Linked DNA regions of Homo sapiens. The protein of the gene in region 2 interacts with the protein of the main gene of each other region in a biochemical or structural test. Each region holds a gene or a part of one and is shown on either strand. Other genes may lie near its edges.

Region 1 (3,752 bases), on a different chromosome or scaffold from region 2:
GGGTTTCACTGTGTTAGCCAGGATGTCTCCATCTGCTGACCTCATGATGCACCCGCCTCGGCCTCCCAGAGTGCTGGGATTACAGGCGTGAGCCACCGCGTCCGGCCTATTTAGATTTTTTTTAACAAGCACTTGTGCTTACTATGTGCCGGGAGTTGTTTAATCACATTTTAACATAAATCATCTAATCCGGATTACAATTTTATGTGGTCCACTATCAGCCCCATTTTATGAGGGAACCCAGGATTGGAGACGTTAAATGCCTTGCCTAACGTCACTTAGCAAGTAAGTCACAAAGACAGGGAATGGTGGTCTGACTCTAGAATCTCTTATCCCTGTGTCATGCTGGGAACTGTGAGTATTCTGTCCCCATGACACAGGAGGCCCTGACAAGACAATTTTAGCTCATGTGACTGGGACTTTACAGCTTAAAGAATGAATTTTTAACACATGCTAGAACTAACATATTTGATATTTGTTATCCTTCACAGCTGTCACACTCTTGGAAGGCCATTCAGTCCAATAAAGCTACACAAAACATTTCTGGCATAAGCCATGTTAAAAAATAATCTTATCTCAGTACATACGCCACACTTAAAACACACATACACAGAGACTTCAACACTCAATTTACTCATCAAACTTAGTTCCATTAGACACCTGGTCTTTAAAAAAGCCTGTTTCAAAGGTACAAAGTTCTACCACGAGAATATTCCAAAGGGTGCATGTAGGTTTTGAAGGCAATTCCCATAGATGAAGCCCCAAAATACTGCTAACAAAATTGGGTCCACTTTATAATTAAGACAAATAAGTGCCTCTTTGCAGTAACTGTAATTTTTACCCTGTAACAGGTGAATAGTATTATGATTTAAAATCTTTTTTACTATTTGTATACCTTTTGGGAGAAAGGTGGACTAGTCATTTTTTTCCCTAGTTATTTTCAAGACTAGCAAAGCAGGAAAAGTGGAAATATGTTTACAAGCCATGCTGACAGGTAAAGATGCTTCCTTACGTTACAGACTCCCCATGCGACAGTACACTCTTCTGAAGTAGCGGACGCCTGGTTAGCTTGACATTCTATGCCTGTGGGAACAAGAGCAACAGGATCACTGGACCTTGGGAGCAGCAACGTTTCAATCTATAGCAGCCAAAACAATTCTCAAGTGGTTAATTAGCCATAATTGTTTTTTAATGAATGTGGGAAAGGAAGAACAGAGAAGACAGAGATAACAGTATGCTTTCTGACGATTTCCTATCCTTGTTTAAAAAGAGTAACAAATGGGAAATGCACATCTCACTCCCGTTGCCCAGGCTACAGTGCAGTGGCATGAGCATGGCTCACTGCAGCCTTGACTTCCTGGGCTTAGGTGATTCTCCCTCAGCCTCCTGAGTAGCTGGGACTACAGGTGCGTGCCACCACACCAGCTAATTGTTTGTATTTTTTGTAGAGATGGAGTTTCACCATGTTGCCTAGACTGAGTTTTTTTCCTTTTGAGATGGAGTTTCCCTCTTGTTGCCCAGGCTGAAGTGCAATAGCACAATCTTGGCTCACTGCAACCTCCGCCCCCCGAGTTCAAGCGATTCTCGTGTCTCAGACTCCCAAGTAGCTGGAATTAACAGGCGCACACCACCATGCCTGGCTAATTTTGTATTTTTAGTAGAGATGGGGTTTCTCCGTGTTGGCCAGGCTGGTCTCAAACTCCTGACCTCAGGTGATCCGCCCACCTCAGCCTCCCAAAGTGCTGGGATTACAGGCATGAGCCACCGCACCTGGCCTGCAATGAGTTCTTGACTGAGATCAAGATCTGATGGGTAAAGCACAACTGGGGATAAATATTCACAGAACAAGAATTACTAATGCATAACTTGCTTTCTCTGATCATAGTAACTAAATGGAGTCTCCCTTCTGAAGAATAAAAAGCTTCAGGAGAAACTATTTAATAGGGGAGAATTACTTCAAACTACTACAGGTGAAAAATAGTAAAACTATGGCTGGGCGTGGTGGCTCACACCTGTAATCCCAGCACTTTGGGAGGCTGAGGCAGGCGGATCACGAGGTCAGGAGTTCAAGACTAGCCCACCCAACATGGTGAAACCTGTCTCTACTAAAAATATGAAAAACTAGCCAGGAGTAGGCCAGGCGCGATGGCTCACTCCTGTAATCTCAGCACTTTGGGAGGCCGAGGCAGGCACATCATGAGGTCAGGACTTTGAGACCATCCTGGCCAACATAGTGAAACACCGTCTCTACTAAAAAAAAAAAAAAAAAATTAGCTGGGCGTGGTGGCGGGTGCCTGTAGTCCCAGCTACTCAGGAGGCTGAGGCAGGAGAATTGCTTGAACCCAGGAGGCGGAGCTTGCAGTGAGCCAAGATTGCATCACTGCACTGGAGCCTGGGCGACAGTGCAAGACTCCGTCTCAAAAAATAAATAAATAAAAATAAAAATAAAAAAATAAATAAAAATTAGCCAGGTGTGTGTGGTGGTGGGCGCCTGTAGTCCCAGCTATTCAGGAGGCTGAGGCAGAAGAATTGCTTGAATCCGGGAGGCAGAGGTTGCAGTGAGCCAAGACTGCGCCACTGCACTCCAGCCTGGGTGACACAGTGAGACTCTGTCTCAAAAAAAAAAAAAAAAAAGTAAAACTATTAAAAAAAACAAAACTAGATGTTAATGGGCATGTGTGGTTTTAGGGGAAGAGATACCATGATAATACCTTTTTCTTTTCACTCTTCGAAAATGTGGAAAGTGGGCCGGGCATGTTGGCTCACACCTGTAATGCCAGCACTATGAGAGGCTGAAGTCAGGAATTCGAGACCAGCCTGACCAACACGGCAAAACCCAATCTCTACTAAAAATACAAAAGTTAGTGGTGCATGGTGGTACATGTCTGCAATCCCAGTTACTTGGGAGGCTGAGGTAGGAGAATTGCTTGAACCCAAGGGGCAGAGGTTGCAGTGAGCCGAAGTTGCACACCACTGTACTCCAGCCTGGGCAAAAGAGCAAGACTCTGTCTCAAAAAACAAACAAACAAACAAACAAACCATAAAAGGCTGGGAGTAGTGGCTCACGCCTGCAATCCCAATGCTTTGGAAGGACGAGGGTGACGGATCACTTGATGTCAGGGTTCGAGACCAGCCTGGCAAACATGGCAAAACCCCCTCTCTACTAAGAAGGCAAAAATTAGCCAGGCATGGTGGTGGATATCTGTAATCCCAGCTACTCAGGAGGCTGAGGCAGGAGAATCACTTGAACCCAGGAGGCAGAGGCTGCAGTGAGCCGAGATCACACCACTGCATTCCAGCCTGGGTGACAGAGTAAGGCTGACACACACACACACACACACAGAGAAAGCAAAGCACTTACTTTTGCTAGCCAGATTCACACTACAGAGTAACTTGGTTTGCCAACTGATAAAAATAAAGAATTGGGGCCAGGCCCGGTGGCTCACGCCTATAATCCCAGCGTTTTGGGAGGCTGAGGCGGGTGGGTCACGAGGTCAGGAGATCGAGCCCATCCTGGCTAACATGGTTTCTACTAAAAATATTTAAAAATTAGCCAGGCGTGGTGGCGGGCACCTGTAGTCCCAGCTACTCAGGAGGCTGAGGCAGGAGAATGGTGTGAACCCGGGAGGCGGAGCTTGCAGTGAGCCAAGATCGCACCACTGCGCTCCAGCCTGGGTAACAGAGCGAGACTCTGTCTCAAAAAATAAAAATAAAAATAATAAAATAAAATAAAAATAAAGAATTGGGTCAGG
Region 2 (2,821 bases):
TTATTTTTCTTCAATAAAGTTGCATAAACCAATGAGTTAGCTGCCTGGATTAATCAGTATGGGAAACAATCTTTTGTAAATGCAAAGCTGTTTTTTGTATATACTGTTGGGATTTGCTTCATTGTTTGACATCAAATGATGATGTAAAGTTCGAAAGAGTGAATATTTTGCCATGTTCAGTTAAAGTGCACAGTCTGTTACAGGTTGACACATTGCTTGACCTGATTTATGCAGAATTAATAAGCTATTTGGATAGTGTAGCTTTAATGTGCTGCACATGATACTGGCAGCCCTAGAGTTCATAGATGGACTTTTGGGACCCAGCAGTTTTGAAATGTGTTTATGGAGTTTAAGAAATTTATTTTCCAGGTGCAGCCCCTGTCTAACTGAAATTTCTCTTCACCTTGTACACTTGACAGCTGAAAAAAAACAACATGGGAGTAATAATGGGTCAAAATTTGCAAAATAAAGTACTGTTTTGGTGTGGGAGTTGTCATGAGGCTGTGTTGAAGTGACTTATCTATGTGGGATATTGAGTATCCATTGAAATGGATTTGTTCAGCCATTTACATTAATGAGCATTTAAATGCAACAGATATCATTTCAGGTGACTTAACATGAATGAATAAAAGTCAATGCTATTGGATTGTTTTTTGTTTGACAAGTGCTATCTGTGCCACTGATTTAACTTCTGTAGTAACAAGGGCATTACCATTCTTCACCTTTCCTAATTCTGATCCCATAGTTTTACATTTTTCCTGTTTATTTTGATTTTGTTCACTGCTTTATTTCTTAAAGTTCTAGCACATCTGTGACTCCTCCACTTCCACATTTTTGCACTGCTTACACTTACGTGCAATCTTATTCCTTGTCTGCACACACATGTGGAAAGCTAGAAATAAATGTTAAAACTTACTTTTTATAAACATTTTAATATGTAGTTTGGACATGATTTATTGACTTAAGGTTCTTCTCTAAACTGGAAGTGAAATGCATGCCTTCTGAAGATGTTCTGGCTTTGTTAATTCTGTAATCATTTCATTGGGGAAAAAACCAGCTACGCAGTTTTTCCAATGAGTGAATTTTTTCATTTTGTGTTTTGCTTAAAACGGCTCCTTCAGGGTAGATGTCATACTGCATAACTTTTTTGGATTCAAATTATGAATGAGAAATTAGTTAACATTCTGCTCCACAAGGTAAGAAAAACTGCTCTTTGGCTCTATTTTCAAAATTACTTCTGAGATGCATATAGTCTCAAAATAACAGCTTTAGTAGGCATATCACTTCTTGAAAGCCAAACATGAGTGTAAGACACTTTTATGAAACACGGTGGATCCCTAACTGGCTTTCAAATTGACCTTTATAGCCTTAGACAACCCTTAGGTATTTACGGAGATGACTTCTTTGATTGTCATAACAATTAGTGGATGTGTCCAGTTCTCTGTATCTTTGACTTGATGCTTTATACATCATTTCATTTGTTGCTTCTAAGGGAATAAGCCATAGAGGCTTCTCCAGGTTTAAAAGAACAGTAAAGTACCTGGAAAACCAACATTTTTGAATGTATGGACACTGGACATGAGATATGTACAATGAAATCTTAAAAGAATCTAAGAATTTGCCCTCTTTGCCCCACTCCACCCAGTAATTTGACATTACTAGTGCCATGTATAGGACCCAACTGAGTATTAGAATCAGTTTTGACTATGTCTTTGTATTTCCTAAATCTTTTAATGCATAAACCGAATTAGGGTCCAGTTGGCCTGTTAATGGTAAATTTACATTTTAAATGACTCAGTTTGTTTTTCCTGGGCGAGTTTGCAATGTGATAATCAGATTTTTTAAAACTGATTAATTTGCTTTCTTGTGTGGGTGTACTCACATTTTAAAGTATGAACCACAGTTAACTAGTGGTCTCAGGGGTAGTGAAACACTCACTTTTTTTTTTGTTTGTTTTTTTTTGTTTGTTGAAATGGCTTAGTTGAAGTATACTTAAGGTACTGATCATGCTGTGTTAGTAATTTGGGCGGGGAGGGGGGTAACTCAGCCATGTTTTGTGTTGGCATAACAAAACTGTTAATGATTGTTGATTACACTTTTAAGTGAATTTGTCTTTTATGAGGAACCCAGTGCAAGTCACTAAATATTGTCTAATAGTGACATCTGCATAAGACTTGTAATAGCTGAAGTTAATTGAGCTTAAAGGAATTGTTACCATTAAAGTCTGTGTTTAAAGACACTTTGGTCTTACTCGGTAATTCCAGCTAACATGAAATCCACACTTGAGCTTAATGTGTGTGAGCTCGATTTTTAATTTTATACAGTTTATGAATAAGGTGGTTCTCAAAATGTTTCTTGAGATAACAATCTCAGCATCATTTAGGAAATTCTTTGTAATATAAGTTGTCAGGCCCCATCCCAGTCCTGAGTCAAACTGGCATGGAGCCCAGTCACCTATATTAAAACACCCTCCAAGTGATTCTGATGAATAGTGAAGATTGAGAACCGTTTTCAGAAGTCTGTTCGTAGCATTCCCTTGTAACAGACTACAACCAGTAATCCTTTGACTCTACAGCTATTTTTTTATAGCTGTTTTTGGCTTTAGAGAATGTGTTTAAGTATTACGTTTCTGATACCTGACAATTTCCTAGTACTTTGAATTGTAATACAGTACATTGATTTCCACATTTACACTTGGAATATTAAAATACATTAACGTCCTACAGTTGGCTAATTTGAATAACCATACTGGCATGGAATTCAACCAATCGTCAAGTATTTAAAAGTAATCAGGTGCAAAGATCTACCTAAGTATTGTGTT

The links. The genes of interacting proteins can lie anywhere in the genome.
Region 1: the proteins of UBE2D3 (region 2) and RBX1 form a complex in vitro, tested with the Homo sapiens proteins (72 studies listed by BioGRID, with this or other methods).

Annotation. Positions count from the first base shown.
Region 1 is NC_000022.11:40,961,378-40,965,129, reverse strand, and holds part of RBX1 (E3 ubiquitin-protein ligase RBX1), read right to left. Parts: intron 1,084-3,752; coding exon 1,013-1,083; intron 1-1,012. UniProt on the Homo sapiens protein: E3 ubiquitin ligase component of multiple cullin-RING-based E3 ubiquitin-protein ligase (CRLs) complexes which mediate the ubiquitination and subsequent proteasomal degradation of target proteins, including proteins involved in cell cycle progression, signal transduction, transcription and transcription-coupled nucleotide excision repair.
Region 2 is NC_000004.12:102,793,801-102,796,621, reverse strand, and holds the end of UBE2D3 (ubiquitin-conjugating enzyme E2 D3), read left to right. Parts: 3' UTR 1-2,239; downstream 2,240-2,821. UniProt on the Homo sapiens protein: Accepts ubiquitin from the E1 complex and catalyzes its covalent attachment to other proteins. In vitro catalyzes 'Lys-11'-, as well as 'Lys-48'-linked polyubiquitination.